Linked DNA regions of Homo sapiens: all the other regions are linked to region 3. Evidence: fine-mapped expression QTL. A gene starts in region 3. Each other region holds a variant in brackets. All regions are shown on one strand. Distances are from middle to middle.

Region 1 (8,101 bases), 28 kb after region 3:
TTATACTGTGACTTGTTAGGAAACCCTGGGCCTCATTTGGCTCTCCCTTGGGAGAGGTTGAGGGTGCACCTTTATGAACATGGAAAGGTTTATCACAGCAGTTAACCCCCACTTGCTCCTCCCCTCTATACCAAGCTCTTCTGGTTTTTCACCTGACGGGGTGGGTGTTTGGGATCTATTTTTTCTTGCTAATTTGCCAAGTATTGCACTATTAATACCAGCCCCCGAAATGAAAGGAACCAACCACACTGGTGTGTACAATCAGACAAGCAAGGTTGTATATTGAGGAAATTTGAGCAAGCTGCCCTGAAGAAAGGCATAGTGACAAGATGAGAGAGATGCATTGTTTGGAGATGTGTTTAGCCAGTGCCCTTCTTCCCCACGAGCCCCCCCAAGGCTCAGAGCGGTACTGGCTTTTAAAGGGAAAGGCCTTCATTTCTTCGTTTATCCCCCCAGCAGCGCTGGAGAGCGAGGTGGCTTCAATAAGCCTGGTGGTAAGTTTTTGAGTATTACCATAGATAGTGTTTAAAAAAAAATGCAGTCAGTTTTTAGAAAACTATAATTTTTTTATTAGTTTCATAAGTGGTTTAAAAATGATCTATACAAAAGAGACTAATGGGTACTGCCGGCATTGTCTTAGGGGTTAATAAGGTTAACCTATGGTTACAAAACAAAGGGTAACTTGAAGTATTGAGTAACTGCTTCTGTAATATGGGGGAGAATAAATTTTTAAATTTGGTTTATTTAGAGGAAAAATTTTGACTTAAATTTAACACTGATTTGGCACATAAGCATTGAGAGTGTATTTGGTTAATGGTTTAGAAGCAAACCAGCAAAGGAAAAAAGCAAACCCTAGCAAACCTTTCACAAATGTTAAAGAGACACTGCTCCATTTTAGCAGTGCGGGTCATTTTGAGTTTAATGAATCCCCATCAAATGGTGGTATAGTAGATAGCTATGTGTGTTTGTAAGGTTTGTAGCTTGCAAGACGTGCACTAATAATATTTTATATGATCTTTCCTGGTTGGCAGGACCCATGGATGAAGGACCAGATCTTGATCTAGGTAATTTTGAATTCTAGTTGTGCTTCATATCGTGCTTTGTAAATTAATGGTACAGAGGTAAATGCATGCGTAGAGTTCAGCAGCCTTATAGACCAGTGTGATATTCTTGCTGTCAAGGACAGTTTGGGAAATCCTATGTGAGCATCTACTCATAATTGCCTTAAGTGAAGTAAACCAAAAGTTTGATAGCATTCTTCTTAGTATGCTTGGTAGTTTTCTTAGATTTATGATGAATATCCTTGGGCAGTAGTGATCAGGTAGTTAAGAAACCCCTATAGATACATGATAATAATTCTCCTGTCTTGTTGTCTCTGAAAGGCCCACCTGTAGATCCAGATGAAGACTCTGACAACAGTGCAATTTATGTACAAGGATTAAATGACAGTGTGACTCTAGATGATCTGGCAGACTTCTTTAAGCAGTGTGGGGTTGTTAAGGTCAGTAAAAGCATAACCAGGTCATCTGGCAGAACTTTAAACCACAGAGCATTTTAAAGAGATTGAATTGATGTTGAGAGTTGTTTTCTAAGGTTGCCTTTGCCTGACTTCTTTCTAGGTATCTTATGGTTTGTTCCTTTTTAAAAAAGATTAGCCTTTTTTTTTTTTTTTTTTTGAGACGGAGTTTCCTTCTTGGTGCCCAGGCTGGAGTGCAATGGCGCAAGTCTTGGCTCACTGCAACCTCTGTTCAAGCGAATCTCCTGCCTCAGCCTCCCAAGTAGCTGGGATTACAGGTGTGCGCCACCAGCTAATTGTGTCTTTTTAGTAAAGATGGGGTTTCACCGTGTTGGGCAGGCGGGTCTCAAACTCCTGACCTCAGGTGATCTGCCCACCTTGGCGCCTCCCAAAGTGCTGGGATTACAGGTGTGATCCCCTACGCCCGGCCTTCCCTCCTCCACCCCTAGGGACAGAGTGTTGCTCAATCTCAGCCTCCCAGGTTCAAGTGATTCTCCCACCACAGCCTCTTGAGGTAGCTGGACTTATAGGCACATGCCACCACACCCAACTAATTTTTATATTTTTAGTGGAGATGGATTTTTGCCTGTTGGCCGGGCTGGTCTCTAACTCCTGGCCACCTCAAGTGGCCACCTACCTCAGCCTCCCAAATTGCTGGGATTACAAGCATGAGCCACTACACCCAACCTCAAATTATTGTGTCTTTATGCTAATTCTTCATAGCTAGTAACGCAGATTTTTTCTTCAGGGATTTTGACTGTTTTTCAGTTCTTGCTCTTCTGTATTAGAGTTAGTTTATGAACCCCATAAACCTCAAAACCTTAAAACCCCAATTGAATATTTACTAAATCTATGAAGTAATTTCAGGAGAATTTACATTTTTATGATACTGAGTGATCTTTTTTTCCCCATGAAGATTTTATTTCTCCATTTATTTGTATATTTATTTGCTTATTTATTTACTGAGACAGTCTTGCTGTGTCACCAGGCTGGAGTGCAGTGGCACGATCTCGGCTCACTGCAGCCTCTGGCTCCTGGGTTCAAGCGATTGTCCTGCCTCAGCCTCCTGAGTAGCTAGGATTACAGGTGCCCGCCACCACACCCAGCTAATTTTTGTATTTTTAGTAGAGATGGGGTTTGGTGAAACCATGTTGGTCAGGCTGGTCTTGAACTCCTGACCTCAGGTGATCTGCCGCCTCAACTCCCAAAGTTTTGTGATTGCAGACATGAGCCACTGTGCCTGGCCTGTCTCTATTTGTTATTTTATTTTACTTTGAGACAGAGTCTCACTCCTTCACCCGGCTGGATTGCAGTGGCGCAGTCTTGGTTTACTGTAACCTCTGCCTCCCGGGTCTCCTTGCCTCAGCCTCCCGAGTAGCTGGAATTACAGGCGCCTGCCAGCACCCCTGGCTAATTTTTGTAAGTAGAGATGGGATTTCACCAGGTTGGTCAGGCTGGTCTTGAACTTCTGACCTCACGTGATCCACCCACCTAGGCCTCCCAAAGTGCTGTGATTACAGGTGTGAGCCACCACACCCAGCCTATTTAGATCTTCAGTAAAGACTATCGATTTCCTTAAAGGTCTTGCAAATTTTACTAGTTTTACTTCTAGGTTTCGTTTATTTTCAAGTTGCTGTGGTTAAGGGTCTTCGTTAAATGACACTTTTCTGGTTATTACTGGTGTATAGAAATACAGTTGATTTGGCCGGGCGCGGTAGCTCACGCCTGTAATCC[T/C]AGCACTTTGGGAGGCCGAGGCGGGTGGATCACGAGGTCAGGAGATCGAGACCATCCTGGCTAACACGATGAAACCCCGTCTCTACTATAAATACAAAAAATTAGCCAGGCTTGGTGGCGGGCACCTGTAGTCCCAGCTACTCGGAGGCTGAGGCGGGAGAATGGCATGAACCTGGGAGGCGGAGCTTGCAGTGAGCTGAGATGGCGCCACTGCATTCCAGCCTGGGTGACTGAGTGAGACTCCGCCTCAAAAAAAAAAAAAAAATACAGTTGATTTTGGGCGGGCGTGGTGGCTCATGCCTGTAATCCCGGCACTATGGGAGGCCGAGGTGGGTGGATCACGAAGTCAAGAGATCGAGACCATCCTGGCCAACGTGGTGAAACCCCGTATCTACTAAAAATACAGAAATTAGCCGGGTGTGGTGACACGCGCCTGTAGTTGAGCTACTTGGGAGTCTGAGGCAGGAGAATCAGTTGATCCCAGGATGCAGAGGTTGCAGTGAGCTGAGATGGCGCCACTGCACTCCAGCCTGGCGACAGAGCAAGACTCCATCTCAAAAAAAAAAAGGAAATACAGTTGATTTTGGTAAATCTTATATAAGGTGATTTCTCCCTGCTTGTAGGTGTGTGTGTGCACAGATATCACACACACCTCAAAAGTAAAATGCTTTTAGTGTCTACTGTCACATTCTACCCTGTGCAAGACTCCTTGTTTGCTTTTTTGTTTTGAGATGGAGTCTTGCTCTGTTGCCCAGACTGGAGTGCAGTGGCACAATTTCAGCTCACTGCAACCTCCGCCTCCTGGGTTCAAGCCTCAAGCCTCTTGAGTAGCTGGGAGTACAGGCTTGAGCATATTAAAAAGACTGCTTTTTAATATGTATATAACATGTAGTTTATTGAGGAATGTGGAGTTTATCCTGGTTAAGAAAGTAGTATTTACCATCAAAATTTTGGAAATAAAGATGTTAAAATAGATTTCCAAGCTGGATACAGTGGCTCACATGTGTAATCCCAGCACTTTGGGAGGCCAAGGCAGGAGGATCCCAAGGATTGCTTGAGCCCAGGAGTTTGAGACCAGCCTGGACAACAGAGTGAGACTCTGTCTCACAAAAAAGAAAAAAATGCATTTCCACATTATTCATACCACAGTTTTGCCATATTTTCTTTTCAGTTTTTAGGTATCACGTTCCTTTTTTTAAGTCAGAGGTATCAATATATATATCCTGTTGTAATCTTTTTTAAGTCCTATAAATAGATTGCTCTTGTGTTACTGGATATATGTAAACAATTACAGACTAAACTGATCGTGTGCATATATAATGCAAAAAAGTACACGTGAAGATATTCTTATACAAGGTAGCTCCTGAATTCAAGTCAACCACATCTGATATTCAGCTGAAAGACTAGTCATCTGTTCTAACTGGAGGAAGTAGTGGCTGTGTTAGACTAACCAAGAATCCCTGTAGTTCACTCACAGCCTGTACACTGTCCTTCACGGTTTAAGGATAATTTTCTTTATGCCAGTCATGTCTTATGTGGTGGTATCAAAGTCTGACTACCCCTACGAGGTGGCTGTGCTCAGTGGATACCTGTCTGGGCATAGAAAATGCCAGGGCAGGCAAACCAGCATCAGAAGATGGCTAAGGCAGGAGTGGGGCCTATCCTGTTCACTTCCACACTTTGGTCTACTTTGGTTTTTATGATAAAGCAGGGATAGAGGAGAAAATAACTTAGAATTCTGAAAAACTTAAAAGCGGAGAAACGGTGACATTTAGTGACTTACTACATGTGAGAAATTGGTACTTTTCCTGGATTTTGCCTGGACTTTTTTCTCCCAAATTAGTATATTCTAGTCATGCCTAACTATGCTATTCTTTGTCTAGATGAACAAGAGAACTGGGCAACCCATGATCCACATCTACCTGGACAAGGAAACAGGAAAGCCCAAAGGCGATGCCACAGTGTCCTATGAAGACCCACCCACTGCCAAGGCTGCCGTGGAATGGTTTGATGGTGAGATGTACTCACTGGCATTCTTAATCTCCCTGGCTATAGAATATGGCATGAGGGAGAAACTTGTGAACCATAGGAGCAAGAAGACCTTCCATCTCTTCCTGGGGGAGGTAGATGGCCGGTCTCCCTGCAGTAGTAGTAGCACCCAGCCATTGACCCTGGATTTGGAGATCCCTTTATTTTGAGGCATTAGTATTACAAATCAACCTTGCTTAAAGTGGCAAACACTTCCTAAGCACAGATTATCAGAAGGTACAGAAAACCCTTCAAAAGAACATCTTAGCCAGTGTACATTTGCATATAGATAAATATATATATTTAAATGAGGCCTTGACATTAATGGTGGGATTTCACTTCAGACAAAACCAACTTGAAAGCATTGAATGACTTGGCCATGTCCAGTGGCTTGCACCTGTAATCCCAGCACTTTGGGAGGCCAACATCGGTGCATTGCTTGAATCCAGGGGCTTGAGACCAGCCTGGGGAACATGGCAAAACCCTGTCTCTACAAAAAAAATACAAAAATTAGCCAGGTGTTGTGGCACACTCCTATACCTATAGTACCAGCCACTCAGGAGGCTGAGGTGGGAGGATCACTTGAGCCCGGAGAGTTTGAAGCTCCAGTGAGCTGAGATTGCACCACTGCACTCCAACCTGGGCAACGGAGCAAGACTCTGTCTCAAAGAAAGTGTCAAATAACAAGTCCTGGTTCTGTTTTCTTGGTCATGCAGTCAGCTTCCCACCAGCTTATTTTCCTCCTTATGGTAGACAGTGTTTTTTGCTTGTGTTGTTTTTTTTGAGATGGTCTCACTTTGTCACCCAGGCTGGAGTGCAGTGACACAAGCCATCTCAGCTTACTGCAACCTCCACCTCCCAGGTTCAAGCCAATCTTGTGCGTCAGCCACTCGAGTAGCTGCTGGACTACAGGCGCATGTCACCACGCTGAGCCTAACTTTTGTATTTTTTAGTAGAGATGGGGTTTCACCATGTTGGTCAGGCTGTAGGAAGGTTTTTAAGTGTATTTAAGTATGGCCTTTTTCTGGCCAGGCACAGTGGCTCTTGCCTATAATCCTACCACTTCAGGAGGCCAAGGCAGGAGGATTGTTTGAACCAAGGAGTTCACTAGCAGCCTGGGCAACCTAGTGAGACACTGCCTCTACAAACAATTTTGTAAAATTAGTCGGGCATGGTGATGCGTGCCTGTAGTCCCAGCTACTTGGGAGGATTGCTTGAGCAAGTGAGATTGAAACTGCAGTGAGCTGTGCCACTGCACTCCAGCCCGGGCAACAGAGTGAGACTCCCATCTCAAAAAAAGCCTTTTTCTGGCCTTGTCATTAAAGATCTTAGAGAAGATTACAGGCAGACCTAATGCATCTGGGAGTGGTCATTTGATGATGATGTGGAGTTGGTGAACAGGGAGTACAGGGGAGTAATTGATGTTCTGTTGTCTTGTTCCAGGGAAAGATTTTCAAGGGAGCAAACTTAAAGTCTCCCTTGCTCGGAAGAAGCCTCCAATGAACAGTATGCGGGGTGGTCTGCCACCCCGTGAGGGCAGAGGCATGCCACCACCACTCCGTGGAGGTACTTTTTCTGAGCTCCTATGTTGCATTAAAAGGTTTTCAGTACACTTCATACCCTTGAGAAACTTGATTATTAGAGTGAAGAAATATAAAATTGTGTGTAGAGTCAATACTAGACTATCGAGAGCTAACAATGAATGTTTGTTGGGAATAAAAGGAAGAGAAGAACATGGGAGGCTGGAAGCCACTCTGCCTGTCAACTCCAGACTGCCATTTATTCAGCTTTGGTTGTGTCTGTATAGACATGCCTATTCCTTACAGAATTGTGGGAGTTCAGCCAGGTGCAGTGGCTCACGCCTGTAATCCCAGCACTTTGGGAGGCTGAGGTGGGCGGATCACCTGAGGTCAGGAGTTTAAGACCAGCCTGGCCAACGTGGTGAAACTCCCTCTCTACTAAAAATACAAAAATTAGCCGGGTATGGTGGTGCATGCCTGTAATCCCAGCTACTCGGGAGGCTGAGGCAGGAGAATTGTTTGAATCTGGGGGGGTGGAGGTTGCAGTGAGCAAAGATCGTGCCACTGCACTCCAGCCTGGGCAACAGTGTGAGACTCCGTCTCCAAAAAAAAAAAAAAAAAATTGTGGGAGCTCTGTTTCTGTAGAGCACGTGGAACACGCTCCTCACAGGGAAGGGGGCTGATGGCCTGAGCCACACGGAAACACGGGACAGGTGATGGGGAAATGACAGCAGTAGTATCTGTGGGTTTACTTAGTGATTTTTATTTCCTATAGCAAATTTGGTGCTACAGAGAAATGATTTGCTGTTTCTTGTTGTTCTTGTTGTAGGTCCAGGAGGCCCAGGAGGTCCTGGGGGACCCATGGGTCGCATGGGAGGCCGTGGAGGAGATAGAGGAGGCTTCCCTCCAAGAGGACCCCGGGGTTCCCGAGGGAACCCCTCTGGAGGAGGAAACGTCCAGCACCGAGCTGGAGACTGGCAGTGTCCCAATCCGTATGTACTTGTCTTGGCAAATTGATACCCTACGAGTGAAGCCACCCTTCCCTCACCCCATCCCCACTCTAGAGTGGATTGCTCTGTCTAGAGGAACAGAATGATGACCCTGATGGCTGGTTAGGGACACTAGTCAGCCATTCACTGGACGCTTCAGAGCCTTCTGAAGATTGATTTGACCTGTCCTGTGGGTGCAATGCTGCCTGAGGCTGTGCCCTAAAGCATGGGTGTACATAGATCCTCTTGATAGTGAGTGTGTACCTGTTCACACACCACCTTTCCTTGTTTATCTTCCTTAGTTCAATTGGTGA
Region 2 (8,101 bases), 55 kb after region 3:
ACTCCCGCCCACCCCTGGGTATTCTTTCTCTGAAAAACTTTCCTTGCTTCTCCTTCCGACACTGCAAACAGAGCTGTGTGTGAGGCGTCTCTGGCTCCCAGTATGTGTTTTTGGATGGCGAGGGGAAGGGGCACTGTGGACTGGGAACGTCCTGAGGCTCCCATGAAGCCCTGCAAACGTGCCATGTTCCCTAGGAGACTCTCACAGCAGCGTTCCTAGCAGCAGTGCCCATTTATCAAGGGCCTGCGATGTGCCAAGCCTGACCCACAGCCTCATGCTCACTAAGGCTCCCTGGGACGCCATGATTGGGCCACAGTTGCCTAGCAGGAAAATGGCAGCACAGGGGCCGGAACCCAGGCCCTTGGGCTCCAGAGCCTGGCTGAGAAGCCTGGCTTCATCTGGACCCAGAGGGTTCTCAGGAAGTACTCAACTGAAGCTCAGCCCCCAGTGACCACTCAGCCCCCTGTCGGGAGGGACTTGGGGAGGCCTCTAGGTCCCGTGGAGCCCCCCATCCACAGGGGCTGAAATGAGCTCTAATGGGAGTGTGCAGCCCTGTGCCAGGCTTCCTAAAGACCAGCAGGCTGGGGGGCTGAAGCTGCCTGTCTGCCTGGGATGTGGATTTCAGGGTTCTCTCATCAGTCCCCTCATTCCTTCCCCAAGGAAAGGCTGTAGGCCTCCTGCCTGCTGCCCCCCTCCAATCCCTATTCCCCAGGGGCCTCCTGGGCACTCCTTGAATGCCCCTATCCAGGGCTCCAGGGACCACCTGCCAACTATGCATGCATCTTCTCCTTCAGCAGAGGGGACTGGCACTAGGCACACAGTGGCCAAGGTGGTCCTGCCTACCCTCTGTGGCAGGGAGAAAGAGACAGACATGCAGCTAGGCAGGGACGGGTGAAGACAGGAGCTCTGGGCTGGTTCAGGCCTGGGGAGATGAGGAGGCCTAGGGTAAGCACCAGTCCAGCGGGAGTTGAGGGGCTTATACTGAGCCCTGAAGGATCAAGCCACAGATAGTGGGGAGGGCTGGGCAGGGGCAGGCACCAGGTGGGGAATTCTGCTTTCCCCAGTTCATTGCCCACAGGCTCCTAACACCAGCTACCTGGCCTTCACCCATGTGTTTCTTCCCAACTGGGCCTGATTCCAGCCCATCCCTGAAGTCAGGCACCCAAGACTGCATCCAGCTCCCAGGGGGTGTTAGTTCTGGACTCCTTTGCTAGGCCACACCAGTCACCACTAATTATGGTCTGTCCTGGCCACGAATCATGGCTCCACACCACCAGTAACTCACCTCCTGGACCCACGAATGGAGGGATCCTCCACAGCTCACATGCTTGGGGTGTAGTGGGTCCTTGGACATCCTCATGATGACTCCCACTAATCACAGCCAGGCAGCCTCTTGAGGGCTGGGCTGGTCTTCCAGCCATCAGGACACAAGGAGGCTGGGCAGGGCTGGGCTTCCAAGCCTCTGAAAGTTTCTTTTCTTGGGTTTGAAACCTCCTTCCAGGGCTGTGTCATCTGTGCAAGTTACTTAAATTCTCTGCACCTTGGGCTGGGTGCAGTGGCTGACGCCTGTAATTCCAGCACCTTGGGGAGGCCCAGGCGGGAGGATCGCTTGGGCCCAGGAGTTCCAGACCAGCCTGGGCAACACAGTGAGACCCCGACTCTAGAAAAAATTTTAAAAATTGGCTGGGTGCAGTGGCTCACGCCTGTAATCCCAGCATTTTGGGAGGCCGAGGCAGGGGAATCACGAGGTCAGGCATTTGAGACCAGCCTGGCCAACATGGTGAAACCCCATCTCTATTAAAAATATAAAAATTAGCCAGGCATGGTGGCGGGGGCCTGTAGTCCCAGCTACTCTGGAGGCTGAGGCAGGAGAGTCACTTGAACCCGGGAGGCAGAGGTTGCAGTGAGCCGAGATTGCGCCACTGCACTCCAGCCTGGGTGACAGAGCGAGACTCCGTCTCAAAAAAAAAAAAAAAAAAAAATTAAAAAACTAGCTGGGTGCTGTAATCCCAGCACTTCGGGAGGCTGAGGCAGGTGGATCACGAGGTCAGGAGATACAGATCATCCTGGCTAACATGGTGAAACCACGTCTCTACTAAAAAATACAAAAAATTAGTCGGGCATGGTGGTGGGCGCCTGTAGTCCCAGTTACTCGGGAGGCTGAGGCAGGAGAATGGCGTGAACCCGGGAGGCAGAGGTTGCAGTGAGCCAAGATCGCACCACTGCACTCCAGCCTGGGCGACAGAGCAAGACTCTGTCTCAAAAAAAAAAAAAAAAAATTAGCTAGGCGTGGTGGTGCACACCTGTGGTCCCAGCTACTCAGGAAGCTGAGGTGGGAGGATTGCTTGAGCCCTGGAGGTCGAGGCTACAGTAAGCCATGATCACACCACTGTACAGCAGCCTGGGTGACAGAGCAAGACCCTGTCTCGAAAAAACAAAAAACGAACAAACAAAAAAACACCTCTGCTTCTCAGCTTCCTTCTCTGTGAAAGAAATATTAATTTTCTTGACTTCACTGAGCTGTGGGATGCAATGAGATGATACAAAGAGAAAAACAAGACAACTTGTTAAGTTTGGGGAGACAAAATTGGTACATATAAAACTTCCATTTTTCTATGTAAATGGCTACAAATACAAAACATAATGGAGGCATATGTGTGTATACGTGGGTAAACAGGCACACATATATTTTCTAGCTCTGTCAGCAGAGGGCCTGGAAGAAGTGACACCCAGTGGCAGTGAATACATCCAGCATCTAGCTCTTGGTTTCTTTCCTTTTTATTATTTATTTATTTTTGAAACAGGGTCTCATTCTGTTGTCCAGGCTGGAATGCACAGGCACAAACATGGCTCACTGCAGCCTGGACCTCCAGGGCTCAAGCAATCCTCCCACTTTAGCCTCCCTGAGTAGCTGGGACCACAGGCATAGGCCACCACACCCGGCTAAATTTTTGCATTTCTTTGTAGAAACAGGGTTTTGCTGGTCTCAAACTCCTGGGCTCCAGCAATCAGCCTGCCTGGGCCTCCCAAAGTGCTGGGATTACAGGTGTGAGTCACCACGCCTGGCCGCTCTTGGTTTCTGTTTTTTCTTTTTTTCTTTTTTGAGATGGAGTCTCGCTCTGTTGCCCAGGCTGGAGTGCAGAGGCGTGATCTCGGCTCACTACAACCTCGGCCTCCCAGGTTGAAGCAATTCTCCTGTCTCAGCCTCCTGAGTAGCTGGGACTACAAGGCGCCTGCCACCACGCCCCGCTAATTTTTGTATTTTTAATAGAGACTGGGTTTCACCTTGTTGGTCAGGCTGGTCTCGAACTCC[T/C]GACCTCAGGTGATCCACCCACCTCGCCCTCCCAAAGGGCCGGGATTACCGGCATGAGCCATCGCGCCCAGCCTGGCTGCTCCTGGTTTCTAATATGGTTTTCCAGTGAAAGGAACCACGCTCCTTGGAGAGATGACTGTTTCTAGGGTTGGCGCAGGACCAGTACAAGATGATCCTGGAGCCACTTATGGTGGCAGAAAGGAGGGAAGTGCTCAAAAACGAGGATGGTGGTATGTCACAGGGACATAGGAACCTTCCAGAAGGAGCTCCCAGTGGCCAAACCTGCAACAATTCAAGCAACAAAGTAAATAATGTTGTATGGGATTAAGCCCAGATTATAAAATAAATATCCATGAGTCCAAACTGATATAAATGACTGAGTAAATAAATGAATAAATGTGATCATTCAGCTTGCTTGCTCCCAGGGGAAAAAAATACATCTGAGAAGAAACCAGTCTTGCTTAAAGAAGAATTCCAAACACTTCCATGTAGCTACTCCCCCACCCCGCTTTCCAAAGTGTAGGCTACATTTAGTTATTTGCTTCCAAAGAATAGAGTACATAAAGGAGGATGGCCGGGCACGGTGGCTCATGCCTGTAATCCCAACACTCTGGGAGGCCAAGGTTGGTGAATCACTTGAGCCCAGGAGTTCAGTACCAGCCTGGGCAACATAGTGAGACCTCCTCTCTACTAAAAATAATAATAAAAAAAATATTGAATGAAATTAGCCAGGTGTGATGGTGTGTGACTGTAGTCCCAGCTACTTGGGAGGCTGAGGTGGGAGGATCAACTGAGCTCCAGAAGTCAAGGCTGCAGTGAGCTGTGTTTATGCCTCTGCACTCCAGCCTGGAGGACAGAATGAGACCCTGTCTTAAAAAAATAAATAAAATAAAAAATAAAGAGGGGAAAAGTAACTTCACGGTAGAGAAAACTGCAAACATGCAAACATTATCTTGGCTAGGTGATCCAGGCAAACGTGAGGTGACAAGAAATGTCGATAGCATGTCACCCTGATTATGATGCGTAGGAAAAGTCACCTGTGTGGTATTCTTTCTAAAAAACCATAATCCCAGGCTGACCATGAGAAAAACACCCAACAAACCCAAACTGAGGGACTTTCTACAGAATACCCAAGCAGGACTCCTTGAAAACAGTCAAGGTCATGAAACACCAAGAATAGCTGAGAAACTCTCACAGATATAAGGAGGCATGAGTACCACGTGGAATGTGGGATTCTGGAACAGAAAGAGGACACGAGCGCACAACTAGTGAAACACGAATAAAAAACCGAAATGGGCGGCCAGGCATGATGGCTCATGCCTGTAATCCCAGCACTTTGGGAGGCTGAGGCAGGCAGATCACTTGAGGTCAGGTGTTTGAGACCAGCCTGGCCAATATGGTGAAACCCCGTCTCTACTAAAAATACAAAAATTGGCTGGGCACAGTGGCGCATGCCTGTAATCCCAGCTACTTGGGAGGCTGAGGCAGGAGAATCACTTGAACCAGGGAGTCGGAGGTTGCAGTGAGCTGAGATCGTGCCACTGCACTCCAGCCTGGCAACAAAGGGAGGCTCCGTCTGAAAAAAAAAAAAAAAAAAAAAAGAACTTTTACATGAAGAAAACTTAAAATATTACAGAGACATAAAAGAAAACCTGAATCAATGGGAAAGCATCTACTCCTGTTCTTTACATATAAAGATCCAATATTGTTATTGACATCATAACAAGGCCATTCTCCATAAATAAACATTTGATGTGATCCAAATGATACGATCAATTTTTTTTTAAGGACAAACTAGTTCTAAAGTTCAAATAGAATGAAATGGGAATAAGAGGGTACAAGAAGTTATCAAAACATGGCTGGGAGCTGTGGCTCACACTTGTAATCCCAATGACTTGAGAGGCTGAGGCAGGAGGATCGCTTGAGCCCAGGTGTTCGAGGCTGCAGTGAGCTATGATCATGCCACTGCACTCCAGCCTGGGTGACAGAGTGAGACCCTGACTCAAAAAATAAAAAATGATTGGGCATGGTGGCTCATGCCTGTAATCCCAGCACTTTGGGAGGCCAACGCGGGTGGATCACTTGAGTTCAGGAGTTCGAGACCAGCCTGGGCCACGTGGGGGAACCCTATCTCTACAAAAACCACAAAAATTAGGTGTGGTAGCTCTCACCTGTAGCCCCAGCTATTTGGGAGACTGAGGCAGGAGGATTGCTTGAGCCTGGGAGGTGGAAGTTGCAGTGAGCTCAGATCACACCACTGCACAACAGCCTGGGTGACAGGAGTGAGACCCTGTCTCAAAAATAATAAATGAATAAAAATAAAAATAAAAGTTATCAAAACATGAATAGACAAATTATCTTGTATAGAACAGAGTCCAGAAAAACACCCAGATATATGTGGAAATTTAGAATATGATAAAAATGGCATTTCAAATCTGTGGGGAAAAGATGAATTATTCAGTAAATGGTGTGGAGACAAGTGGGGAACCATCTGGGGAAAAAGGGAAGTTGGATCCCTACCTCATTCCTACAGAAAGCCCAGATGGAACAGGATTGAAATGCAAAAATGAAGAGCAGACAAGTACTAGAAAGAAAAAATTAAAAGAAAATTACATCTTAAAAAGCCCAATTTCAGCATGGAAAAGTAAAAAGCAGTAACAAAATAGGGAGGAATAATGGTAAATCAGTAAGAAAAGGATCAATAATCAGATAGAAAAATGGCAGAAAATGTGAAGACAGCTCACAGAAAGGGACATACAAGTGGCTCAAAAACACATGCAAAGAGGCACATTGAAAACATGGGAAGGGCCAGGCGCGATGGCTCATGCCTGTAATCCTAGCATTTTGGGAAGCTGAGGCAGGCAGGTTATTGAGCCCAGGAGTTTGAGACCAGCCTGGGCAACACGGCAAGACCGTCTACAAAAACATACAAAAATTTACTTGGTGTGGTGGTGCGCATTTGTAGTCCCAGCTACTCAGGAGGCTGAGGTGGGAGGATCACTTGAGCCTGGGAGGTTAAGACTGCAGTGAGTGGTAATCACATCACTGCACTCCAGCCTGGGCAACAGAGACCCTGTCACAAAAAAAAAGAAAAAAAAAAGGGAAAGAAAAGAAGAAGAGAAAAAAGGCCAGGTGCGATGGCTTACGCCTGTAATCCCAACAATTTGGGAGGCCAAGGAGGGCGGATCACCTGAGGTCAGGAGTTCAAGACCAGCCTAGCCAACATGGTGAAACCCCATCTCTAATAAAAATACAAAAAATAATTAGCCGGGTATGGTGGTGTGCTCCTGTAATCCCGGCTACTTGGGAGGCTGAGGCAGGAGAATCACTTGGGTCTGGGAGGCGGAGGTTGCAGTGAGCTGAGATTACACCACTGCACTCCAGCCTGGGCGACAGAGCAAGGCTCTGTCTCAAAAAAAAAAAAAAAAAAAAAAAAAAAAAGGCAGCTGGGTGCAGTGGCTCACGTCTGTAATCCCAGAACTTTAGGAGGCAGAGGCGGGCAGATCACCTGAGGTCAGGAGTTCAAGACCAGCCTGGCCAACATGGCGAAAATCTGTCTCTACTAAAAATACAAAAATTAGCCAAGCGTGGTGGCGGGCGCCTGTAATCCCAGCTACTTGGGAGGCTAAGGCAGGAGGAACACTTGAGCCTGGGAGGCAGAGGTTGCAGTGAGCTGAGATCATACCATTGAACGCCAGCCTGGGAGGCAGAGGTTGCAGTGAGCTGAGATCATACCACTGAACGCCAGCCTGGGCGTCAGAGTGAGACTCCATCTCAAAAAAGAAATAAAAATTTAAAAATGAAAAAATAAAAAAAAGGCATGAGGACACTCTCTGTAATGGGCTAATAATGGAAAAACCTCTGCGATATAAGCCCAACATGTATTCCGTGCTACTATTTCCACACAAGAAGGGAAAAAAATCCAATTAGGCACTGCCAAGTCTCTTTGGATAATTACGTGGTTTCCTTTGGGGAGGAAAATGAGGGAAAGGGGTAGGTTTTTACATCTGTCTTGTCTTTAGATTTTGAGCCATGTGAATGTGTTACCTTTTCAAAACAAGAACTAAAATAGAAAATGCATCTTGGGTATACCCTCTGGTTCAGCAGTTCCGGGGCTAGATCCTACAGCTACATCCCTGCCCAGGCAGGAGGGTGTATGTGGGAAGTATTCGCTGCAGCATTGCTTAGGGTGCAGAAACAGCCTGAATGCCCCGCAGCAGGGACTGGCTAACGGTGGCCCATTCACACAAGGAAGCCTGAGGCGGTCTGCTCCTACTGATAGGGAAAGAGCTCCAGAAACGACTGTCAGGTCAGAGAAGCGATGTGCTAGCAGTGTCTAGGTAGGCCATCATTCGTTTAGTAAAACTCTATATGGATTTGCTTATACACATGTGCAGAATATCCCTGGAGGAAAATCAAAATCTAGTGACAATGTCTGCCTTCAAGGGAGGAAAATTAAGGACTGAGGATGGGGTGGGAGGGAGAACTTTATTCTCTGGCTGGCTGACCTCACCATGGTCCTGAATTACTTGCTCCACAAAAATGAACGCAAACCACTAGCTGAAAATTAAACAACGTAAAACCAGGTCCCGCAACAGCCTTGGCAGTGTCTGGTGCACAGGGGAGCCCATCGGCCCTTGGGTATGTGTTGGACCCTCCAGAAATAACTGGTTGCTGTTGTTGGATTTCCTGATTGGCTGGGAAGGTTCAAGACACTTGGGAATCTTCCCAAGAAAAGTCTGGGAAGTTCCCCAAGCTGCGGGATGCCAAGGCCTCCAAGAGGCGAGA
Region 3 (8,096 bases):
TACAGATGGGGTTTCACCATGTTGGCCAGGCTGGTCTTGAACTCCAGACCTCAAGTGATCTGCCCGCCTGGCCTCCCAAAGTGCTGGGGTTACAGGCGTGAGCCACTGCGCCCGGTCAGGCTTTTAATTTTTTTAATTTTTAATTTTTGCTCAGGGTGGTTTGGCTATTCTGGGCCTTTTGTGGTTCCATATAAATTTTAGGGTTATTGTTTCTATTTCTGCGAAGAATGGCATTGATATTACAGGGAGCCCACGTAGCCCTTTACATTGTAATTGGCACCTCCACCAGGCCATAAGACCCCAGGTCCCAGCCCAGAGCATGTCCCAGAGGAAGACTCAGAGAAGCTCCTGGAATGTGTGTGCACGGCTCCTTGGTATTGCTTGGGCCTTCACCCCTTTGTGCCACTTCCTTCCCAGGCACCCACCCACAGAACCCACACATCCCCACGGGCCCTGGGCTCAGGCAAAGGATACAGGCCAGGCCGGCAAGGAGGCCGCAAAGGAGCTGCAGGAAGGGTGGCTCAGAGCTGAGCAGTGGGGTCAGGGCAAGCAGCAGCCACGGCGACAGCCACGGTGGCAGTGCCCCACGGGGCCGTCTAGGGCGGTGTCCCTCCCCAGCCAGCATGGCCAGGTGGACAGGCATGTATCCACAGCTGCCGGCTGCACTGGACAGCCCAAGGCCTGCCAGCAGCACTGCCAGCAGCCCAGAAGCCAGGGCGAGCAGGGCTGAGGCATGCAGGAATCTCAGCGTGCCCAGGTGGCACTCCTGCTGCCAGCCCACAGTGGGCAGGAGCAGCAGGCTCAGGAGCAGGCCTGGCAGGGCCGTGTGGCCCAGGGCATGGGTCAGCAGCCGGTGCACTGGGAGAGAGAAGGGGCTTATGTGCCAGGTTAGTGGCCCCAACATCCAAGGCTGTCCCAGGTGTGCCAGGTTGAAGGTTACGCTACACCAGGGCCACCTGCTGAGCCCACCTCCCCTCCCCAGGAGCCAGTCTTCCCACAGCCAGCACTTAATCATTGGTGGAAGGGACCAAGGACTTCCAAACACTGTGGCTACGCCTCTGTGGTATTAAACAGAATACACTGGACGTGCCACTCAGTCTTTTCACTGACAACCCGCTACAGAGCACTCACTATGTCCCAGACACCATGAAGGTACTCTGCTTCTGTATTTACTAAATCATACCTGGCTGAGAGCATGAAATGGCCTGCTTCAATCCTGGAGCTACCCCATTCCCTCAAGCTGTGTGACCCTGGTCAAATCACTTAACCTCTCTGAGCATCATTGGGGGTCCTCAAATACAAATTGGAGGAGTTATTATTGGGAAACAGGTGCTCAGCTGAGGTCACTCCTCAAAACCCCAACACCTCCTCCTCCCATCCTGATGCTTAGTTGAAAGTCTTAGCTGTTTTTTTGTTTTGTTTTGTTTTGTTTTTTGAGATGGAGTCTCACTCTGTCACCCAGGCTGGAGTGCAGTGGCGCGATCTTGGCTCACTGCAAGCTCCGCCTCCCAGGTTCGCGCCATTCTCCTGCCTCAGCCTCTCGAGTAGCTGGGACTACAGGCACCCGCCACTACGCCCAGCTAATCTTTTTGTATTTTTAGTAGAGACGGGGTTTCACCGTGTTAGCCAGGATGGTCTCAATCTCCTGACCTCGTGATCCGCCCGCCTCGGCCTCCCAAAGTGCTGGGATTACAGGAGTGAGCCACTGCGCCCGGCCAATTTTTGTATTTTTAGTAGAGACAGGGTTTAACCATGTTGGCCAGGCTGGTCTCGAACTCCTGACCTCAAGTGATCCACCTGCCTCAGCTTCCCAAAGTGCTGGGATTACAGGCGTCAGCCACCTGGCCTTAGTTCTTATTTCAAGGAAAAGCTGCTAGAAAGGGAAACCATGAGAAAAGCACTCCTACCCATAGGTTCCAGCCCACCCTAGGGAGTCCTCTGCCTCCCTTCTTGGCTGTGGATGTGCTGGGCATGCTCCTGTCTAAGGCCATGCTTTCCCGGGACACTGGGCCCCATCCCTGTTTGACCCCTGGAGGCCTTGTGCTGCTCCTGCCAAGTGGGCCCAGGCCCTACAGCAAGTCTCCTGCTTCCTCCAAGGTCCACGTGGCTGGCCCTCACCCTGCCAGGGGTCCAGCAACAGCTCCGGGGCCAGGACCAGGCCGGGGCCGGCCCCCACCAGCCACAGGGTGCTCATCAGCAGCATCAGGACTGAGGAGGCCAGAGGCAGTGCTGGGGACAGTTGGCCATGGGGGCCCCTGGCATGCATCGCTTGGTTGAGGACGGTCAAGGGTGGTCCTGGGGCTGTGTGCTGGGGATAAAAGAAAACAATAACAAGTTATTACTGGAGCTTTTATCTCACCAATACCCTCTCAAGCACCTTATCAACAGCCCTATTTTACAGAGGTGGAAACAGGCTGGAGACGCAGGCCCAGCAGCTTGGCCTTAGTGGAGCTCAGACCCTAACCCATGCGCTCATAAGCCATCTTACCATTCCACTCACCTCTGTTTAAGGACTGGCAGGGGACAGGCATAGAGACTTCTGAGTCCTGATAGGCCCTGAACTCCCAAAAAGAGGGGTTCAGGCCCTCACCCCCCAGGGCGAATTCAGGGCCATCTCTAGCCCTCTTCTGTCCTCCCCCTTCCCTCAGACTACTACCTCCCTCCTTCCTCCCCTCCCCTGTTCCCAGCCTTAATGCTCCAGATGGTTTCAGTTGCCCTTGACCCTGGGGTGGGGCCAGACAATGGGCAAGCCGACAGGGTAAGGGGTAGGGCAGATGGGCAGAAGTCCCACATCTTGAGCCATACTCAGAGACCTGCGACTGAGACATCCCCTTTGAGGGTGAACCCATCCACTGTAAGCCTCCTCCTGCTTCCTTACTGGCACAGCCCCTCTGGCCCTGGCTCCCCTTTCCACAGGAAGGGTACAGTATGCGCTCCACCTCTTTCTGCTCTGTGTCCTGAGGCAAGTTTCCAACCTCATCTTTTTACAGATGAGCCTCATTTTACAGATGAGCCTCTCCTTTCTCATCTGTAAAATGGAAATTCATAAATTCTTTTCCTCAGAGTATGATGAAATAAAAAGGAATAGGCTAAGGCAGGCCCTGGCCCACAACTCTTCCTCCATAAACCATAGCAATCCGCACTAATCATGGCAGGCGTCTGTAGCCACCAACTGGCCCATCGAGAAGGCCTCAATATGGAGGTGGCTGCTCCAGCCTAGCTGGTCCCAGCTTTGGCCCTCAAACATGGCCTTTCCCTGCCCACCAAAGCAAGGCCTTCTCCCCCGTGCTGTTCTCTTGCATCCAGCCTGTCCTCCAGGGCCTGTAGGTCTTCACCCCTGGTCAGGCCTCTCGGTCCCAGGACTCCCACTGAGCTGATTCAGGGCAGGAAGCAGGATCCCAGAGAGACAAGAAGGCTGCCTAATTTGCTCCCCTGCCAAGCGCCTTCTCCACATCTACCAGTTTCCTGCAGGAAAAATGTGGAAAGCTCCTCTGCCTGCATTGTCCTTCCCTCCATTTTGCCAGCAGGCAAACTCCTATTTCACCCTTGGAAGCCCAGCTCAAATATCCCTTCCCCTCCTCTGGCCCCCTAACATCATGGATCTTATCCTTAGGAGCACAGCTTGGCCAGTCTGTCTCCCTAGGCAGGTGGTCTGAGCTCATGGCTCCTCTGATCCAACCCCACATTCCCCAGGGTATTCACAGCACACAGCCAGTGCTTTATATATGTTCACTGAAAAAAGGACACTAGCTTGGCTCCTGGTCCTGCCGAGGGATTTGAAGGTGAACCCTGCCCTTCGCGGACCCGGGCATCCACCTAGGGGGCTGGGGCTAGAGGTCCAGGAAGGTGGGCAGGGTCAGCCTTGCCTGGAGGCAGGGTTTGGGGCCAAGGCACCCACCGTAAACCTCCTCCTGCATCGACACCTCACAACCATTCCCCAGCTCTGGGCACCTTAGCAAGGGTGAAGGGCTTACCCGTGGACACTCGGAACTGGGACTTGAGCCCCCTGGACCTCACTTTCTTCAATCTATGAAACGGGGCAGTGCACCACCAGGCCCTGCCTACCTTACTGGGAAGCCGGGAGGGCAGAATGGAAAGACAAGGACGGAGATTCTTCCGGTGGCGGATAGAGTAGGGGGTCCCAGGATCTGTCTGGTTCGAACTCAGCTGGTGACTTTGCAGAGATACTCAATTTCCTTGGGCCTCAGTTTCCCCTTCTGTAGAAACAAGGATATCGGATGAGGGATGATTAAAGGGCCTGCTCCACCTCGACCGTTACCGGGGATAGGGTCTCGGGGCCAGGCACGGCGTTCGAGGCCTCCCACCCAGCCGACCGGCCTTGGGGACCCTTCCCCGCTGGCCCGGGCCACGCGTCCCGGGTACTCACTGCAGAGCGCGCCCGGCAACCCCGAAAGGCCGGTCGGGGACCCCGGCTGGGAGTCAGGACTCTAGCTCCCGGGCGCGACCCGAGAACCCTGAATCCATTCCGCGCACACCCGGCCGCGTGACCCCTGCCGACCGGCTGGCGCGCCACCCATTCCCCGCGGCCCGCGGATTAGTCAGCAGTTGTTCTAGTCCGGGTCCCTTCCCCCAGCCCTCCCGCCGATCTCCGTCTCCCTGCAGGGCCGACTCTTCAGCGACCGTCCCTAGAGCCAGCGGACGGAACCATTCCAAACAGCCTAGTCTCGTGCTGAGAGCCTCTCCGGTTTCACGCTGAGACCCGCTCACCCCCGCTCTGGCCCCTTAGATGCTATTTTGGCCCGAGTGTCACGTCGGGCGCTCTTTAGAGAGGACTGGGACAAGAGTTGCGGACGCGAAGAACGAGTAAGCGGTGGTTCATCCCTCCTGACCCCACCCCCGTGGCCTGGCCCGATGGTCGCGCCCGGGGTTGCGAGATTTGCGCCTGCGCAGTGCGGCGCCTAGAGGGAAAGCGAGAGGGAGACGGACGTTGAGAGAACGAGGAGGAAGGAGAGAAAATGGCGTCCACGGGTGAGTATGGTGGAACTGCGGTCGCGCCGGCGGTAGCCGGAACGCCCAAACTGGGGGTCGTTCGTCTCTGGGCTTGGCTGGGAAGACTGAGTGGAGTTGCCGAGAGGGGGTTGAGGCACCCGCCGCGGCCCGACGAGCTCGGGGATCCGCATTCCTCTCCCCTCCCCCAACCGGGCGGGCCGGTTCTGGAATCTTCCGGCGCCCGTGGCGCGCGGGGGGCTTGCTGCGGCGGGGGCGCGCGGGGCCCGCCTTGGCCTCCATTGTGTGGCGGTCCTCGCGCCCTGAGCTCCGGGCCTCCCGCCACGTGGGCGGGGCCTGCGGCCTTCGAGGCCCTGCGTGAAGGGGAGGATTTGGCCAGGCCTCAAGCCGGTCACTATGAAACCGCCGGGGGGCCCGCAGGCTGCTGTCCCTGTGAGGCCTCCCTCCCCGTTTTCAGGGTTTCCTGAGAAACCAGGGGAAAAAGCAAATAAAGATACCGTGGATTTGTGGGCCGAGGGGTGCCGGCCTATGAGCGGGAGCCCCGTCATCCTTAAGACCCAGTCGGCTGGGGCGTCTGGCGCTGCCGAGCTGCCCCCTCTGTGGCTTCCAGCCCCAAGCCGAACTTCTGCTCGCCTGGGCTTTAGACAGAATGTGCTTCCCTCCTCCAGGGCCCCCAGTTTGCCGCTTTCTTGGGCTTCTCCATTTTTATCGTTATTAATCCACGTCCTCCCCTCCCCCAAAACCAATTAAGTGGCTTCCCAGGGCCCTTTTTCTGCAAACGCCGAGGGACATCCGTTGTATAATAAGGCCAGCCTGGGTCGAGAGACGAGAAACGCTACCAGAAAGATATTTCTGGTCTCTCTGACCTAGGAGGAACAAAAGGCCGAGCCTTCATTTGAATTATGTTTCAGCAGTGGCCTCGCACGTTTATTCGCCTGCGTTAGGCCGGCAGGCCTGTTGATTTCGTAGGTCGACAGAGGAGAGGGGAAAAAAGGCCAGTAGAAGCAATCTTAAAGGCACTTGCAAGCAAGCCCCGGTTGGGAACTCCAAAATGGGAGTAGAGTGGTCCTTGATGGAAGGAGCGTTTAAGAGTGTCGCCTAGCCATCACCTGCAGTTCGCAATCTGTGGGTACACTAACCCGCGAAAATTGGCAGGGTGGAGCATTTTTGCCCCGGGGGTATTCTCAGGCCACCTGGTTCCAGGCCTTAGAGACAGTGGGAGAAGATGAGAAGGAAGACAGGAAAAGTTCTGGGCACTCCAGAGTTTTTGGAGTCCAGAATCCAGCAACTTAAGGACAGTTTAAGAATTCTCCCCATCTGTGGTCAATAAACAGGTAAGTGTTGGCTGTTCGTGCCGGGATACCAAAGAGTGGATACCAAAGAGTGCCGGTAGAAGAGAGGACTGAAATACCACAGCTAACCTCCCGGTGGGAAGTGGTTTCCTAGGTGCCCTATCCACCCTCTTCTGCTCTGCAAAAGCCTGAAAAGGCAAAACGTGTGCGTTGACATTTTTGCGTGGCTGGACGTGCCTTTTTTCAGTCAACTTTGTTCAAACCTTGTTCACCAGTAACTACCATGTGCTGTACTGTATTAGAATTACAGTTGTGGTTTCTGTTGACACAAAGTAAACACATTAGGCCTGGCTGGGGGGGCCTTCAGAGAGTCACATAAGTAATCTGGTCCTTAGTTTCCTTTCCTGTAAAATACAGAAGTTAGGCTAGACCTCTTAAGCTTTTGAGCCCTTCTGACCTTCCAGCATAAGCATTCCACAAATTTGTCCTATGCTGACTTCAGCTCAGGTACTGTGAAGCTCAACTCAGGTAGTGTGAAGCAGCTTCCATAGTGACTGCTCTAAAGTGTTAAACCGTTGCCTTGGGTTAATAATAGAAGTTTTCTCTCCTCGTATGTTATCTCATGTAGAAAAGTACGTAAAGCATATATATCCAGTGCAACAAAGAATTGGAATGCAGACTCGCAGCAATCTAGAACCCCCAGCGCTCAATCACAGTGAAGTGATTTTTAGTGAAGTCAGTGGCTCACTTTTGGGGGTTAAAAACGAACACGGTTGCTGAATAATCTGACCAGTTTGTAATTGTATTAGGTTGGTGCAAAAGTAATTACGTTTGCATCAACCTAATAGCTTGCTTGAGGGCCTGTGATGTTTGTGTGCTCTAGGAAGATAAATGTAAGTTCATGAAACAAATTTGCTACCTTCTATAGCCCACCAGTTAGTATAGGGCCGAATCCTGTGGTTTCTCACTGATAAGAGGTCATTGGTTGTTCCATATCAGCTTTGCCAGTTTGATGTTTTACATAACTGCTCTTGCGTAAAAGTCGTCTTGCAAACGTTGAACTTACATGACAGTGATTTACAATCACTTCTCAAGCAAAGACCTCAACAAAACGTGGGTTAAAATATTTGATGTTAAATGATTCATTGCTGTGTTTATTTTGTAGATGCCACATGGAAAAAATGATCTGCATTTAGTTTTAATGTCAGAGAGAGTATGACTTGTAGTGCTATTGAAAATGCCTTTAAGATTGTCATGAACAGATTATTTTTTTCATTATAGGTTAGCCTTTGGGCAGTTGATTTGTTCCTCTTGGTGATTCAGGGTTTTGAGTTAAGAGTGTGTACAAAGGAAAGAAAGTAGTCCAGTAAAGTACAGAGAGGTAGGCAGATAAGCCAACGTGAAGAGATGGATTCAGCAAAGCTCTCTCAGGCCGCCGAGGGATTGTGAGGCTGGCTTTGGATTCCATGAAGTGGATGCCATGAAGAGCTGTCAATTGTTGGTTTTGGATGAGGGACTACTTTCTGATTGGAAAATAAAGGACCCCTTTTTTCCGTCCTAATGGCAGTACTGTCTTCAGACAGAACAAGATATGTGTTCTTGTGGAGAAGAAAGAATTGGGCAGAATTTTCAAAAATAATTACTTTAACTGCCTTTAAAAAAAAACTAAATTTATCTAACTTTAATGCAGTAGCGCTCTGAAAACTATTTTCCGTTTGTTTTTACTACTTGTAGACACCTCAGTGGACCAGTTTTTGGTCCCTTTGGATGCATGTTATAAATTTCATAGGAAAAGGAAAATTATAGGGAGGTTTACTTAGATAAGGGATGAAAATT
Region 4 (8,101 bases), 66 kb after region 3:
GACCCAGGAGGGGCAGTGTCTGGAGGGCCATGCCTGCCAGAGACTCAGGGGTGTGGGGGAGAAGCAGAGTTTGGGGCTGTCCGGGGCCCTGGAACAGCGGTGCAGGCCTCCAGGACAACTGTGTGCCCCAGGGAAGCCATTCTCTAACAGGTCTACCTCAAAGGCTGGGAGGTTCAGGCTCCTGGGAACCACTGTCCTCCCAGCTGGACATGCAGGCACTCACAGGACAGGGCCAGGGCCTGTGCCCAGCAATGTCACTTCCCAGTCAGGGGTGCCAAACCAACTGCACCACCTTACAGGGCCCAATTTTACACAATCTTCTAGTCCAACTCACTGTTCCGAGACCCAATTGGTGTCTTATCTGGGTAACCTGACGGGGTTGATTTGGAAGCTTTCTAGAAAGGTCCTTCTCAGGGACCAAACTGATTCTAGTTCAAGCCAGGCTTGAAGGGACGCTTGGACCGCGTCCTCCACCAGGGCCACCCCCTGGCATGGGACGAAGGGGAGGCTCCAAGGCTGCAGGGCGGGTGCCGGGGCTCTCACCGTGCAGCTGGGGTTGCCCGGCTGGATCCGCAGCTCCGCCAGCACCCAGATGCCGTTGGTCAGCTTCAGGGACTGGTAGAGCATGTCCTGGCCCTCCACGTTCCTCTTGGCGACAGTGAAGATGTTGCTGCTCTGCAGCTTGCTGCTCGCAGCCTCTGTGGGGTCACATGGCCGTGAGAGGCCCCAGTCAGCGCGGGGGCCTGGGTACAGGCGAGGGGCTGGGGTCGGGGGCTCGGAGTCCTCACCTGCATTGAGGGGGCAGTCTCTGATCTGGAACTGGGCCTCATTCTCATTGGGAATATCCTTCCATGTGGCCAGGAACATCTGCCGGTCTGCGGGGTGAGCAGGGTGGGGATGAGAGGCGAGCCCCTCATAAACCTGTGGGCCCTCTGTAGCTCAGCAGGAAATGGGTCTGGCCTTTACTGTGCCACGTGAAAGCTGACAACAGGCACTAGCTGCCGCACAGCCCTCCTGCTTCCCTAAGCACACCCTCCGCTCTGTGAGGGAGGCCCCAGTGCCGCTTCCAAATGACCCTGGCTTCCTGCCTCCAGGCCTTGGATCTCCCCTCCCCACCCCCACACGCCTTCCTCCTCCTCGGTGAGCAGCCTGCTCGTTAGTCACAGCCTCCCATGCAGGCCTTCTGTGGCAAGCAAGAGATGACATGGGCCAAGGGCTCCACGCAGCCAGGGGCAGGGTGCAGGCCGTCTGTGTGCTGTGATCAACACCCTTCTTGGGGGTTCCAGAAAGGGCACAGAGGAGGGGGTTACCAGGTGTGGGGCATGACCTGGGCTCGCTGCAGCCCATGGGACAAGGCTGAGGAGCGAGCAGGAGAGCCTGGGAGTGGGGTGAGTTCCATGTGGCACAGCCCACCTGCCAGACCAGAACTGGCCACTAAGGCCGGGGGGGTCCTGGGTATACCCCTCACTCCAGGCCCTGCAGGGAAGCAGCAACTCCCCGACTCCATTTACGGGCAAGGCAGTCCATCTGGACCTTGGTAAAGGCACCACCTTGGCCAGGTTCCCAAGCCACAGCCCCATTTCAGGCACCCCAGCGGGCTCCCTCATGACTCACCCATCTTCCCGTCCTCCACAAAGAGGATGTGCAGTGGGTACAAGGTGCTGAAGTAGAAGACATCGATGTTGTTCTTCACGGCCACCTAGGCACAAGGGGGTCCCCAGTCAGTCTCTGGGGCTTGACGCCACCTCTGAGGCCCCAGGAAGAGTGTCACTGAGCAGATTCTCTCCCAGGGCCTTCCCTGGTAAACACACCCCTTCGTTCCCCAACCTGGGCCTCCCCAACACATCTGCAGCTAAGAGCATGACTCCGCAGACACGACCTTCTACTGACCCCAGTGGGGCCCGGCTGGTAGGTGAGTAAGGACTGGGGTGCCTGCCCTGCCCGGAACCCACCTGGAGGTTGTTCAGAGGCTCCATCTTCATGACCGAGCCCACCGTGCTGAGAGGCAGGGAGATCTCCACTGTCTGGTTGGGGCTGAGTGGCGCGTGGACCTGGAGGGGGGCGGCGGGGGCCAGGCCAAAGCTGGGGAGAGAGAAGCCCCACAGGGATGGCAGGGGGAGTAGGTGCTGATGCGGGACAGGTGAGCTCCTCCGACTCGGGAGCTGGGGCTGTGGTTGGCAGGGAGCCTCTCACCGTGCCAGCCTTCCCATGTTCTGGACCCTGGACAGAAGGATGGGCTGTGGGTCCCCTCCCCCAGATGGCCATCTGGACAGAAAGAAAGAGCCCCAGGCCAATTGCTCTGCTCTGCCCCAGCCTGGCTGCAGGCCTGAAGCCCAGCTCTGTTCCTCTCCTCTGGGCCAGGCACTGGTGGGCCCAGGTAGGCAGGCCTTGCCCTGTCCTGCCCTCAAGGAGCTCTGTCTAATGCCAGGGGCCTGGAGTATAAGCTGCTTCTACCTTGAAAACTCTGGGACCACCCAAGTCTCTGCTGCCAATCCTCAACTCCCAGAAGGGATCTGACCATCCCAAGCAAGACGCTAGATTTTACTCTCTTGGCCAGAACTTGCCAGGTCACACAGTGGCCACAGAGAGATTCAGGAAAGCTCTGCTTCTCTGCAAAGCAGCACAGTGACAAATTAGGAAGATCCTCATGGGTGTGAGACACGCCAGCAGCAGGCTCTTGGAAGGTAAGTCACAGGGCATGGGACTGGGGGCACAAACCGAGGGCTCGGTATACCTGGGCTGCGGATTCAATATTATACCTGCTCCTAGCCTCATAAAAACAGAGCCAGGTACACCTCTTCCTATCCTCTAGATGAGGACACCGTCTCAGGGAGGAGCAGGCCTGTGTCAGACCCCATAGGGTGAGGGCGCTGCTGAGAATCAGAGTTTGGGCTGTCTGACCCCAGCCTGTGCTCTGCCCAAGAAGCCATCAGCCTGCCTGGGACACAGAGGGAGACCATTTGGGGAACCCCAGGTCCGCTTGGTGGCTCAGCACACTAGGCTTTCCTGGGAGCTCCACTACTGCTCGCTATGTGAGCTGTCCAAGGAGCCCAGGTGTCATTACCTACTAAAAAGGGGTGATGGCAGTGACTTTGCTGGGCCATCAAGTGGCTCAAGTGAGACAATACTCCCAAAGCCGGTGCCACAGGGCCTGGGTGCCCAGGAAGCATTCAGCACACAGTAAGTTTGCTAGAGGCAACCATTGGAACCACCTCTCGGAGCCTGGTGCACTTCTGTGGCCTCCAGGGTCACATGAGGGTAAGTGGTAGAGCCACCCCTAGCCCCGGTCTGCCCAAGGGTCAGGACCTACTGGCCCCCAGGCTTCCTTGGGGAAGCAGCCCCTTCAGTCAACTTCTTAGAGGCTCAGTTTGCTCATCATGAGCGTGCTCAGGAAGAAGAATCATCAGGAGGGGCTGCCAGGGGTCCCCAGGGAGTCCTAGCCTCACTGGCTGGGTCCATGACGCAACCTTCCCACTGACACCCAGTGTAGCGGACCCGGTGGGGAGGGGCCTGAAGCAGCTACCGCTCCCAGAGGCCCCATCTGACACTTTAATCCTCTGCCACAATGGGGAGGCTGGTAGGCAGGCCCACTCCCCACCAGCCTTCTGAGAGCTGGTCCCTAAGATGGGCCCCTCCTATGTGGGGTGTTTGCCAGAGGTGGGCTTCTCAGCTGGAGCAGGGCGTTTCTGTCTGTAAAACACTCCTTTGGACTGTGGAGGCAAAAATAAGGGGGGCCAGGTGTGGTGGCGTGCACCTGTAGTCCCAGAGACCCAGGAGGCTGAGGCAGGAGGATTGCTTGAGCCCAAGGGTTCAAGACCAACCTGGGCAATACACTGAGGCCATCTCAAAAAAAATAAAAACTAAAAAGAAAGACGTCCTTTCCCACTCTGCCTGGTACTTTGGAGTCCATATGAAGAGGCCACTTGGGGGTAAAAATCCCACTGCTTGGCTGAGCACGGTCACTCACACCTATAATCCCAGCACTTTGGGAGGCCGAGGTGGGCGGATTGCCTGAGCTCAGGAGTTCGAGACCAGCCTGGGCAAGATGGTGAAACCCCATCTCTACTAAAAATACAAAAAATTAGCCAGGCGTGGTGGTGTGCACCTGTAGTCCCAGTTACTCGGGAGGCTGAGGCGGAAGAATTGCTTGAACCCAGGAGGTGGAGGCCGCAGTGAGC[C/T]GAGATGGCGCTGCTGCACTCCAGCCTGTGTGACAGAGTGAGACTCTGTCTCCAAAAGAAAAAACAAACAAACAAAACCCAGTGCTTCAGAGAGTTTTGGCCTGAGCGGTGGTGGGGAACATCCTTCAGAAAAGGGGCACTGCCCTCCCCTCTACAGCCCCCACCCCTGCCTGCAGTCCCCAGAACAGACTCCGAGTGGGTTCTCTCACAGGCCTCCTCTTGAGAGGTGCGCTGGCCTCAGGGAGCTCTCACCTGTTGCGGTTGAACTGGATGGCAAAGTCGGTCATGACCTGCAAGGCCTTGTTGGTCAGCTGCAGGTCCATGGAGATGGAGCCCACCTGGCGGGTGAAGGTGCCTGAGATCTCCAGCCCCTTAGCCTTCATGGCTGGGAGCCAGACCTGCAGGGAAGAGGGTGCGGAGGGGGCGGGTAGGTGCCTCTTCCTGCAGCCCAAACTCAACAGCCCACCTGAGGGTGCTTTTTCTCTCTCTCTCCTGCAGGGGCCTCCCAGATCCAGCACCCCCACCTTTACTGCTAGGGGATGAACAGGTGTGTACTGGGAACAGAACAATCCCATGTACCATCTAGGGCCACCGCCATGACAGGCTGCCTCTCGGAGCAGCTCAGGGTGGGGAGGCACTTCAGCGCTCCAGGGCTGACGTTGAGTCCTCAGAGGGCAATGGAGGGATCACTTGGGAAGTAGGGCTGAGGGAGGCCATGAGCTGGCAATGGAGGGATCACTTGGGAAGTAGGGCTGAGGGATGCCATGAGCTAAGGACAGAGCTCAGTGCCCAATGGCATCCTGGGCCTCGGCCAGAATCTGGGCCTTCCTGGCCATCACCGCCTGTCCTCCCTTGCAGGAGGCAGGGCTGGCCTTTGGCTGTAGAAACTGGTCTGACCAAGGACAGTACCTAAGAGGACCCCTCGCCTGGCAGGCCTTCTGCTGCTTGGCTGCCCTTGTCATTCAAGTCTCAGCTCAAGAACCACCTCCTCCTGGAACCCTGCCCCCAGGTTCCCTCGCCCCAGTGATGTTATGGCAGATAAATATGAGCTTGTGTCTGTCTCTCCTGTACTCAGAGAGCTCGCTGAGGGAAAGGCTCTGTTTTTCTGTCTTTACCACCTTGGCTCAGAGCCTGGTGTGAAACCAGTGTTTGGGGAGTGTTTGCTGAGCAAACAGGATGAGTTAGAGCCCTGCCATGGAAGACATCCACCAGCGGCATCCTGTGGGCTCACAAACGCCTCTCAGGCGGTTACTCTCCTGTGGACGGCTCACAGGCCCCTTGAGGTGAAAAGGCTCAGACCCCACCGACAGCTTCCGCAGCGCACTCAGTGCCAACAAAGGTCCCACTGTCTCTCAGGTTGCCAGGCCAGAAACCACAGAAACATCAGGCACCAGCCCCCCACCCCACCCTAACCCCCTTGAGACAGTCACGCAACCCAAGTCCTGTGAAGGCCACCTCTTACATCTGCCTCCAGGGCCTCCATTTCTCTCCATCTCCAGAGGTGCCACCAGCATCTAAGCTGCCACCAGATTTCCCAGGTAAGACAGCAGCTGCCAGGTGGCACCCCATTTCCACCCTCTCCCCCTTTCCACAGCAGCTGATGTTATCTTGTGAAATGCAAATCTGATCATGGCACCCTGAGAAACTCCTTCCAATCCTGCAATGGCCTCCACGGGCCTTGGCCTCCACAGCCTGGTGCCCATCTGCTCCCCAGGCTTGGCTTGCCCCTGCCCCTGGGACCTCACACTGGCTGTTCCCTCTGCTTTGAAAGCGCCTCCCCACCCCCATCCTGCTCGGTTAACCCTGAGCACGCCCCCGGACAGATCTGTGAGGACAGAAAGCACCCTGCTTTTGTTCTTGGCTGTGCCACGGCGGCTGAGAGAGTACGCAGAAGCTGGCTGAACCTGACCGGGGGGCATGGCTCTCTCATGGACAACTCTCCAGGGGCCCCCCAATCAGGCCTCCTTTCCCCTGGCCCTCTCTCAGTCGCCCAAGGCTGGGGATGCAGACCGCACTGCTCTTGGTCACTATGGGTTCATGGCATCTCACACAGGTCCCAACAGAACCATCTTCAATCTTTACTGGATGAACCAATGAACTGTCACCACCAGCAGACTCAAATGGTGAGGAACCCAAAAGTTCTTATGCACAGACAGCCTCATTCCTTAGACCAACATGGTTGGCCAATGTCTGTAACCCCACAAGCAGGGTGTGGAAATGCATGAGGAATGAACAATTCCAGGTGGCCACAGCGCTGTTAGGAAGATGTGGATACCTACTGAGTGATTCTGAAGGGATAGTGCACCCACACCCTAGAACCCTCCCATGACCAAGGCAGTGGGGAAAGTCCTGCCCGTGGCAGAAAAACTCCTCCTCCAGGCAACCTGCCCTGATGACTCTTGACTAGGAGATCCCCTCCCCTCTCCTTTCCAGCATGCTCTGTTGGATACACTCATCTGACCCTTCACGAAGACAAAGCAGGGGTAACACTGGTAAGACAAACACATGGCTGGGCGCAGTGGCTCACACCTGTAATTCCAGCACTTTGGGAGGCCGAGGCAGGTGGATCATCTGAGGTCACGAGTTCAAGACTAGCCTGGCCAACATAGTGAAATCCTGTCTTTACTAAAAATACAAATAATTAGCTAGGCATGGTGGCAGGTGCCTGTAATCCCAGCTACTTCGGGAGGCTGAGGCAGAAGAATCGCTTGAACCCCGGAGACACAGGTTGCAGTGAGCTGAGATCGCACCATTGCACTCCAGCCTGTGTGACAAGAGCAAAACTCTGTCTCAAAAAAAAAAAAAAAAAAAGATGAACACACAAGCCTAGTGCCAGCTTGCCAAAGGCCAGCTCCAGGCTTATTTTTCCTGGCAGCTCTGCAGTGCCTGGCAAGGGCTGGCACCCACAGGGTTACAGGAGTCTTTGCTGTTCTCTGTCCCTTAGTCCTGCTTTGTATGCCTGTGATATTGGGCTTCTGGTGAGTACGAGTTGGCCTCATGCCTTGGTGCAGCTAATCCAGGTAGTAAGTCAACTGCACATGCTGTACGTTATGCCGCGATTCTACGTTCCCGTGGCCCTGCTGGCCCTGACACCCCACGCATGAAGGCAGGTGCACAGGTGGTTCTCACGCTCTGTGGGGACCATCATATAGGGGTCTGGAGCAGAGGCTTTAGTGTCACTTGCTTTCACTTCCAGACTCTGTCACCAGCTATGTGACCTTAGGCAAAAGCACTAGGATTTCTCAACCACGAAATAGGAGGAAGAGCCACAAAGGGCTGCTGGGAGGAGGACGTGCTGGCGGTGGCTGTGGAATGCTGTGCTGTCCCTACAAGGAAGTGTGCGGCTACTAGTGTCCGAGTTGCTGTCTGCTGTGGGCCTCTCAGTGCCCAGACCCTGCCAGGGGCTCCAGTCACCACCACTGCAGGTGCAGCTGGCATATGGTGGGGAAAGCCAGCTCAGGGGGTGGGGAGGTGCTGGCTCATGGCTCCCTAGTCATGACAGAGCTGTCACTGCCCCTGACCGCCAACTGTATCCTGCTTTGGGGTGGGGACCTCAGAAGAGAGAGGGGAGCTCTGGCAAACACAACTTCTGATCTGAGTGTGATGAGGGGATCAGGCCTGGTTGGTCCCCTCTGGCAGCTTCCTTGACACTGACAACATGGCCCACACTGAGCTCTCCTCAGTGCCAGGCCCGCATGTCCTCACATCCCAAACTCAACTCTCCTTCCCTCAGCCCCGGCTCCTCCCTCCCAGGGAGCTCTCAAGTCTGGCCGCTGTTTCCACCCACAAGAGCCCCCGTGGTCCAGCTGCCCCAGCACTCCTCCTCCCTGCCACGGAATCCCCCGGGGCCGGTGCTTCTGCCCCACCCCTTCCCTGCAGACGCAGCCATCTTTCTCAAGTGCAAATCAGACTGGTTCATCTCT

Which allele goes with the higher level. Alleles are on the strand shown, and positions count from the first base shown. SD is a standard deviation of normalised expression in the study named. Not every link is listed here.
As copies of T replace C in region 2, the expression in pancreas of the gene that starts at base 4,621 in region 3 goes up (small effect, 0.29 SD a copy in GTEx).
For the expression in sigmoid colon of the gene that starts at base 4,621 in region 3, allele T in region 4 goes with a lower level than allele C (small effect, 0.22 SD a copy in GTEx).

Evidence for each region. PIP is the estimated chance that this variant, and not a neighbour inherited with it, causes the effect.
Region 1: its variant is the best candidate, but not a certain one, in a credible set for the expression of RHBDD3 in testis (GTEx, PIP 0.72).
Region 2: its variant is the best candidate, but not a certain one, in a credible set for the expression of RHBDD3 in pancreas (GTEx, PIP 0.88).
Region 4: its variant is the best candidate, but not a certain one, in a credible set for the expression of RHBDD3 in sigmoid colon (GTEx, PIP 0.52).

Annotation. Positions count from the first base shown.
Region 1 is chr22:29,291,106-29,299,206 of GRCh38, forward strand. It overlaps EWSR1 (EWS RNA binding protein 1), which reads left to right. Exons shown (of 17, transcript NM_005243.4): 9 at 457-494; 10 at 1,032-1,064; 11 at 1,383-1,501; 12 at 5,134-5,263; 13 at 6,722-6,844; 14 at 7,628-7,790. Among named protein-coding and RNA genes, the nearest start is that of GAS2L1, 11 kb to the right of the region's middle. The variant T/C (reference allele first, on the strand shown) is at 3,251.
Region 2 is chr22:29,318,024-29,326,124 of GRCh38, forward strand. It overlaps a transcript of RASL10A not described here. Among named protein-coding and RNA genes, the nearest start is that of RASL10A, 6.4 kb to the left of the region's middle. The variant T/C (reference allele first, on the strand shown) is at 3,314.
Region 3 is chr22:29,263,361-29,271,456 of GRCh38, forward strand. It overlaps RHBDD3 (rhomboid domain containing 3), which reads right to left and starts at 4,621. Exons shown (of 7, transcript NM_012265.3): 1 at 4,388-4,621; 2 at 4,066-4,217; 3 at 2,119-2,308; 4 at 475-858. The coding sequence starts at 2,266. EWSR1 (EWS RNA binding protein 1) reads left to right here and starts at 4,908. Exons shown (of 17, transcript NM_005243.4): 1 at 4,908-4,989. The coding sequence starts at 4,977. RefSeq lists enhancers at 4,500-5,371, 4,764-4,823, 4,934-4,993, 6,456-6,505 and a silencer at 5,164-5,253.
Region 4 is chr22:29,329,835-29,337,935 of GRCh38, forward strand. It overlaps AP1B1 (adaptor related protein complex 1 subunit beta 1), which reads right to left. Exons shown (of 23, transcript NM_001127.4): 17 at 4,431-4,576; 18 at 1,953-2,082; 19 at 1,615-1,699; 20 at 789-875; 21 at 544-698. It overlaps SNORD125 (small nucleolar RNA, C/D box 125), which reads right to left and starts at 3,424; the gene lies at 3,329-3,424. RefSeq lists an enhancer at 526-1,482. The variant C/T (reference allele first, on the strand shown) is at 4,179.